3 separate regions of the Homo sapiens genome follow, and all the other regions are linked to region 1. Evidence: fine-mapped expression QTL. A gene starts in region 1. Each other region holds a variant in brackets. All regions are shown on one strand. Distances are between the middles of the regions. Region 1 holds the start of STAP1 (signal transducing adaptor family member 1). Region 2 overlaps STAP1 (signal transducing adaptor family member 1). Region 3 overlaps STAP1 (signal transducing adaptor family member 1).

Region 1 (2,772 bases):
ATCTGATGAGGACCTTCATGCAGCATCATTCCATGGCAGAAGATAGAAGAGCAAGAGAGGATGATAGCATGTGAGAAAGTGCCAAACTTGATTTTATAAAAAACCCACTTCCAGGCCAGGTGCAATGGCTCACACATGTAATCCCAGCACTTTGGGAGGCCACAGCAGGAGAATCGCTTGAGCCCAAGAGTTTGAGACCAACCTGGGCAACATAGGGAGATACTGTCTATACAAAAAATGAAAAAGTTAGCTAGGAGTGGTGGCGCGTGCCTTGTAGTCCCAGCTACTTAGGAGGCTGATGTGTGAGGATTGTTTGAGCCTGAGAGGTCAAGGCTGCAGTGAGCTGTGATTGCACCAGTGTATTCCAGCCTGGGCAACAGAGCAAGACCCTGCCTCTGAAAAAAGAGAAAGAAACCCACTCCCACAGCATTAATTAATTCATTCATTCATGAGGGCAGAGGCCTCATGACTTAATCACCTTCTAAAAGTCCCATTTCTAAACACTGTTGCATTGGGGATTAAGTTTCTAACACATAAGTTTTGGAGGACACATTCAAAACATAGCACTAAATATTCATTGGGAACTCATGTACTTGGAATATCTACTGGCAAAAAAAAAAAAAAAAGAAAGAAAGAAAAAAGAAAAAAATTCCATATTCCGTGTTCCCATAATTGTGGTTTATATTTAGTGAAGCATCAAATGAGCATGAGATACAACTATTTTTTTTATTTACACAAAACTTGACCCTAAAATATTTAACCAACAGAAGTAGTACTAATAAAATTATTCTATGAAGTAATTTTTAATGAAGCTGAGTTTATTCAAGTCATGTCTTCTGCAAATAAAAATGGACACCAATAAACAAAAACAAAGATAGAAAGAATAACTGTGTTCTTGATATCTCCCCTAAAGTTCACAATCTCTACACCTGTTTCTTTCATCTTCTGGTGATGTTAATCTTCTGTTTATTTTGCGCTTTAAATCTAAGCACATGTGGATTACCCAGAGATTGCCCTCTGAAAGTCAGTCTACACCTGTTCTTTCTTACCTCACAAAAAGTAATGGAAAAAAAAGTGTGTGTGTGTGTGTGTGCGTCTGTGTGTGTGTGTGTCCTGTTGGTGGTAGTGTTGGTGGTTAAAAAGCAATTTGGGACTTCCTCTTTGAACAGTTGCCTTTTCCTCTCACAGAAGGAAGATTTCATTTTGTTTGAGACGAGAAACCAAACCACACACCAAAGAGAGGGGTATGATGGCTAAGAAGCCCCCAAAACCAGCCCCTCGCAGGATCTTCCAGGAAAGGTTAAAGATTACTGCTCTACCTTTGTACTTTGAAGGTTTTTTATTAATCAAGCGGTCAGGATACCGGGTGAGTCTATAGATGATAATGTTAAACCTAAGACTTCTGTTTTAATTTAATATTTATTTCATGGTGATGTGATGTGTTAAGACCTCCTTGTTTCTGTTGAAATTAAATCATCTTCTCTTCTTTGAGCTCAGAAAAATGATTCCAATTTTTCATAATTTAAATACAATGTCTGGCTTAAACCTGTATGTATACACATATATAATATGTATAATAACAGAGGTTGTAATATTAAGGCACTAATATAAAAAAGTCAATAAGCTAAATTTCCAAAGAATTTATTTAAATATCACAAAAGATTTTGGCTTGGGAGATAAAATGTTTCTTGTATTTTCTCCACAATTTATTGCTATGCTTCAATGATGACATGTACCATTAAGATAAAATGATATCATGATTAAAATTAAACCTGCTCCTGTTCTGAGTCATTTGAAGTTTATAATGATCAAATTATTAAAAATGGCTTTTGTAAAAATTGTTAAAATGACAAAGTTCATACTGTTTAACATTATATATAGTTATGTGTTCTAAAATACTATTCAAGATAGTGACTTTTAATTTTTGGGGTACTACTGTGGGTATTAAGTACACTAAGCTACATAAATACCTTTGCTCTAAGAAAATCCATGAAGCATTCTGTATTTTTAAATGTAATAATTAAAACTTATAGTTAGTTAAAATCATTACTTTTAAAACAGTAATTATGGATGACTTGAAATTAATTAGAGAAATAAGCCCAAAATTGCCTGTTATTAAATAAAAAAATCATTAAGTTAGGTCAAATTTTATGAAATTGTATACTGACTAAAACTAGAAAAATTTTAAGGTTTTCAGAAATTCCATCAGAAATGTTTAATGATGCTAAAATATATTTTCTGAGGATTTATGAATACTTGTGGAAAAATTATATATATGAAAAATCTATAATAGCATATTCACATTTCTTACATATATAATCAGATCATTTACTATTTGAGAGTAAAGACATGGTAATTTGTATTCTGTTATGGATGTTAAACATGCATAAATAATTACCTTTCAGTTATATTAGAATTTTTTAGATTGATCCTATATGCTTTTAATGTAAATTCAATCTTGTCACCACAGGTAAGCCACATAGTCACACTTTGCCAGGAAAGGGAAGTTGAGAAAAAAAAATTCTAATTAGTAATTTAAATCAGGTTGTTCATTGAATGTTTTCCAAGGTATTTATAATAACTGTTTATGATAGCAGTTTTTTTTAAATGCTTAAAGAAGACATGTCATTGGTATGGTTAGCAGAAAGAATAAGAATTTTAGAGTGTCCTTTATCTGATGGTTTTGCCACTTATAGCTTGTGATCTTGTGCAAGTTACTCAATCTCCTTGAGACTGTTTCAACTATAAGATAGAGAGTATACTACTTGCTAC
Region 2 (2,772 bases), 48 kb after region 1:
GCTAAATTTTCTCTTGGGGTTTTAGGTGCCCATGCTGTCACTGCCAAAGTACTGCACCTTGACTAGGGGCCCCACCCTCAGGGCAGGGCCAGGGAAGAAAAAATAGACAATACAAAAAAAAAAAAAAAGCACCTTAAGGATTTTAGAAACAGACAACCAGATTGCTATTGGTATATGACTGAATGTGTTCAGTTTGCTTTGTGGTCGGGAACAAACTACTCAGCCTCCCCCTGCATTTCAGATGCCTTTGTTATAGGGACTGGGGAATGACATAAGAACAGATGGAATTAGAGGGTCCTGTGAAGAAAGACTTTAAATAATTAGAATATTATCTGTAGTGTAACGTATTTTCTTTCAAAAGCAGAAAAATGATGGAAAAGTACATGACAATGAAAATAGGACTTTTTAAGAAAAGCTACACAAAGATAAAAACTTATCTTGACAAATAATGCTGATATTTTAAGAAAACTTTGTGGAACCCTAACATTGCTTCAGGAATTTGGACTCATAGCTGGCTGTGGCACAGTGAGACTGCTAGTACATCAAACTTGGGAAATGGGAGTTGTAGAGCAGGTAAGGGTTCCAATCTGGAGATTTGGAAAAAGCTAATATGTAATAAAATATTATCTAAAAGAAAATAAGATTTTTTTGATCCCTGTTAACCCATGTCAGCATTTGGCTCTCTCTTACACCAGAAGACAAGAGCAATAATGGAACAAGAATGGTCAAAGATATTTCCCAACTCCAGAAATTAGCAGTTTAAACTAAAAGCCGCTTCAAAATATAAGGCCTATTAAGCTAAAGAGGAAGAAAAAAATTATTAGGTACAAAGTTACAGGTCCAGGATAAAATAAAATTTAAAAAAGCATCTGAATATTCAGTATTTATTTTCCTAACAATTACTAAACACACCAGCAATGTTCCACACACGAGCAGGAAAATCAACTCACTGAAAATAAAGAACCACCGTTTTCTACAATATTGGTTCGCTAATTAAGTTTTTCTACCCACAATTTCTAGGTCAAGAACCCAGTATGGAAGGGAGAAGTGAAAAGTTGAAGAAAAATCCACACATTGCATGAAATACAATGTGAAAGCTCCTTTGTATATCTTGGTAATTTATATTTTCAAAACGAAGTTCTTACTTTTAAAGAGAATTACCTATATTCTCCTGATACTGATTACCAAGTCATTCACCTGAACACCAGAATTAGAATTAAACATTGTACCATACAATTTCATTATCTTATCAGAATGAAACCAATTCACAGGGAAACTAGAGACTACGGCTGTGGTGGTAACCTGCAGATATACACATTCCCATGCACTGACATAAGTTGAAAACACATAGTACTTTCTAGATGGAATTTTTTTCTTTAGGCCTCAATGAAATACATTTCCCCTATATAATTCCAACAGCAGTTTCTCTAGTTCTAAATTTTACCAATTCCCAAAAAACCTAAGTTTTGCTGAAATCTGATTTGACCAATTTATCAAATATGTCATTTTAATTACCTAGCTGGAAGTTAGAGACATGAAATGTACTAGAGGAGCCCTTTTCCAATGGAAATATTATATACCACATTTTTTGTTAATGGAAATAAATGTCT[T/C]CATTCCCATGTTTTTCCCTGGTGTCATCTTTTTGCCACTCAAAATCAGCCCATTATTTCCTTACAAAGATGGTGAAAGGCTGTATCATCATCTTGTCGTAAGTACGATGAGCCTGATTATAAGTACCTGGAGTTCTTAAAAATATGGAACCATCAGCCCCAGACTGCATCTACTGAATCAAAATAACAGGGATATTTTTTCATAATTTTTTTCTTCAAAAGCAAACTTCTAAATTGATTTTGATGGTTATCAATTTGGGAATCACACAATCAACTAAGAATGAAAAGATATGGTCTATATTCTACAGGGGAAAGACTATGTGAGACAGAGGGAGAAAACAGCCATTGACAACTCAAGGAGAGAGGCCTCGGGGGGAAAAAAAGATCAACCTGGCCAAAACCTTGAAAATCCGGCTTCTTGACTTGTGAGAAAATAAATTTGTGTTCCTTAATCCACATGGTCTGTGGTATTTGTAATGACAATCCTACCGAACTAATTCAGTGAGCTTCCTGGGATGCCTGAAAATATGAAGAGTTCTCTCAGACTTACTGAATTATAATTTTGGGGGTGGGGGGGCGGCGCTGAGGCTGGTCCAGAAATCTGCCTTTTAAGCATACAACACAGGTAATTGCTATACATAACAAATTTGAGAACCAGTTCTTTAAGATCTACTATAATATGAAGATAAATAATCTGTGTAGCAATATATGCAAAATCAAGTCAGGCTTTCTTTTAAATGGAGAGGCAGTGACAATTAATAAGGAATCATAAATATGACAAATGAAAACATTGAGAAATGCTTTTCTCTATGTCATTTTGATCTTTTAATTTCTGGAGTGTGAAAATACTTTATTAAATTTCAAATGAGATTGTATTTTAGTTTAAACCTGACAAAAAAGTGTATAATAAATATGACCCAATGTTTACTTTTTGTCTAAAAAAAAAATTGGGACATAAAGCCTGAGCATTAATGTTAAGTATTTATTGAAATGTATTGAGTATTTATATAAATCACTGTTAATGTAAAAATTATAAAAGCAGCACATATGTATTATTCTCAAGGGTTTTACAATTGAGTTGGTCAAAATATAGGTAGATGAGACTAAAGAGCTCTAATTTCTTATCATTTCAAAGTGTTGAGTGAATTCTTGCATTCTATAA
Region 3 (2,772 bases), 21 kb after region 1:
TCTCAAACTCCTGACCTCAAGTGATCCTCCCACCTCAAGTGATCCTCCCACCTCGGCCTCCCAAAGTGCTGGGATTACAGGTGTGAGCCACCACGCCCAGCCCATGTGAATTTTTAAGAGAAGACAAGTTGCCTCAAATTGTGTATTCTGTAAATGTTGTTTTGTGTTATGATTCCAGATCATGGTATATGAACATTTACAGTATGTTGTTATTAGGATGACTTTAGTAGAGAAGTGAGAGAAGCTCAGACTGTATGTAGTTGAAAGAGCTGAGACATTGCTTTTGAATCAAATAAACCCCAGTTTGGGTCCTGGTTCCATAACTTACTAGCTATTTGACTCTGGACTAGCTATTTAATCTTTCTGTGCTTGATTTTTTTTTCTATTTGTATTAGGCCATTCTTGCATTGCTATAAAGAAATACCTAAGACTGGGTAATTTGTAAAGAAAAGAGGTTTAATTGGCTCCTGGTTCTGCAGGCTGTACAGGAAGCATGGTGCCAGCATCTGCTCAGCTTCTGGGAAGGGCCTCAAGGAGCTTTTACTCATGGCAGAAGGTGAAGGGGGAACAGACATATCACATGGTGAGAGTAGGAAAGAGAAAGAGTGGGGAAGAGGGACCACACACTTTTAAATGACTAGATCTCACAAGAATTCACCCACTAACATGAGAAAAGCACCAAGCCATGAGAGATTCATCCCCATGACCCAAACACCTCCCACCAGGCCCCACCTCCAACACTGGGGCTAATTTAACATGAGCTTTGGTGGGAACACATATCCAAACTATGTCACCATTTGTAAATTGGGGATAACAATACCATTTTTTTTTTGAGATGGAGTCTTGCTCTGTCACCCAGGCTGGAGTGCAGTGGCTTGATCCCGGCTCACTGCAAATTCCGCCTCCCAGGTTTAAGCAATCGTCCTGCCTCAGCCTCCCAAGTATCTGGGATTACAGGCACATGCCACCCAAAATTTTTGTATTTTTATTAGAAACGGGTTTCATAATGTTAGCCAGGCTGATCTTGAACTCTTGACCTCAAGTGATCCACCCACCTTGGCCTCCCAAAGTGCTGGGATTACAGGCATGAGCCACTGCGCCCTCCCGTATAACAATACTTTCTAGCATTTCTGTGAGGAGTTGCAATAAAACATGTACAATGCTTGAGCTATAATAGTCAATTAATAAAGATATGTGTTTCATTAGGTATTTTCCCCCATTATTT[C/T]ATTTTTTTCTGGTATATATGGAAATTGTTTTACTGGTTATTATCTTAGTTATCTAAAATGTCTCTAAGCCTTTTTTATTGTGTATCTGTATTAGTAAATGTTTGTGTAAATTTTATATGTACTTGTACGCATATTAAAACATATATAATAATAGAAATTAGTGAAATAGTAACTTAATAGAAAGTGAAGTTATAATGTTTTCTTCCCATACTCTAATGGACTTTCTTGTATACCTCCTGGAAAGCATGCACTCTTCTCTGAAGATAAAGGTGATAATCACACAAGGCTGCCTCCAAATAAAGACTTGCTAGGGTCACGTACAAAAAATATCTTACCATTCACACTATACCTTCTAAGAGCACAGAGCTGGTCATAATGAGGTCAAAATTGCAGGTATGAATATAAATCAGAAGGACATATATAGGTGAGTCAATCTGAAATACATCTCTAGGAAAGGTAACAACCACCACAAAACCAACTAATAAGTAGAAAAGTATCATAATTCTAACATGTGAATGAATGTTTGAAACACACCACAGACGCAAAATTTCGACCTCTGACTGCTGCTCTTCAGTCACCTAATGAACAGTTCCATCTGAATCCCATGTTGCCATATGGCTGGGGGAAATCTTTTCAGATAACTTATGAGAGAGTGAGGTACCTTGAAGGTGTTCTGGAAAATCCCTGGCATTGATGAACTAGTGAGCTCAGAATGAAAAATATGAGGTTTGTTGTTACTTGAATTAGCTTTTAGTGCAAGGCGGGGTGTTCTTTGCTTTGGGGCCAAACCAAAAGGATGATTCCTTGGCAGAAGGGTAGGCACTCTGTGCAGGTTGTAGTTGGTGCAGAGGCGGTTCTGAAACACCCAACCTAGACTAAAATCCTCTGTTTCTTATTCCCTTAGTCCCTACTCATTCACCTCTGTCAGGTAACTGTAGCCCTATAGGACCAGAACAGGGTCGTCTTTACTAAAGTTATAAGTTATTAAGCTGTTTTCTTGCCTGCCTACTCTTTTAATTGGTTTCAGCTGTCAGTTCCCCAAAACGTGTCACTCCTACCTGGGCAAGTAATTAAACTGCATGAAGTCCTAGAGAGAGAAAAGAAAAGGAGGATTGAGACAGAGCAGAGTACGTCCGTGGAAAAAGAGAAGGAACCAACTGAAGATTATGTGGATGTACTGAACCCTATGCCAGCGTAAGTGCACAATGAACTGCAGTTTATTCATTCGATTGTTAAAACTAATTTCTAATTATAAAGGAGAGTTAGTCACTTGCTCTTGTTAAGCCAGGGACAATAAGCAGTCTTGGGGATAAACTGTATATCTCTGCGTACATGCCATATTTCCTCTTCTATGTCATGATCAACAAAATGCAGATTTGAACCAACCATCTTACCACACAGGAAATCCCCTTCCACCCACATCTTTAGAACAAATAGATACTCTTTCCAGAGCTCACGCCTAAATAAAAACTCCCATGAAGAAGGCAGGAAAAGATATTTTTTCACTATGCAAACTCTATGATTGACTGATTTTCTCTCAGAAAAT

The links. PIP is the estimated chance that this variant, and not a neighbour inherited with it, causes the effect.
Region 2: its variant is fine-mapped to the expression of STAP1 in whole blood (TOPMed, PIP above 0.99).
Region 3: its variant is fine-mapped to the expression of STAP1 in whole blood (INTERVAL, PIP 0.93).

The regions. Positions count from the first base shown.
Region 1 is chr4:67,557,564-67,560,335 of GRCh38, forward strand. STAP1 (signal transducing adaptor family member 1) reads left to right here and starts at 1,164. Exons shown (of 9, transcript NM_012108.4): 1 at 1,164-1,366. The coding sequence starts at 1,247.
Region 2 is chr4:67,605,276-67,608,047 of GRCh38, forward strand. STAP1 (signal transducing adaptor family member 1) reads left to right here. Exons shown (of 9, transcript NM_012108.4): 9 at 1,021-2,062. The coding sequence ends at 1,082. Among named protein-coding and RNA genes, the nearest start is that of STAP1, 48 kb to the left of the region's middle. The variant T/C (reference allele first, on the strand shown) is at 1,611.
Region 3 is chr4:67,579,052-67,581,823 of GRCh38, forward strand. STAP1 (signal transducing adaptor family member 1) reads left to right here. Exons shown (of 9, transcript NM_012108.4): 5 at 2,254-2,420. Among named protein-coding and RNA genes, the nearest start is that of STAP1, 22 kb to the left of the region's middle. The variant C/T (reference allele first, on the strand shown) is at 1,226.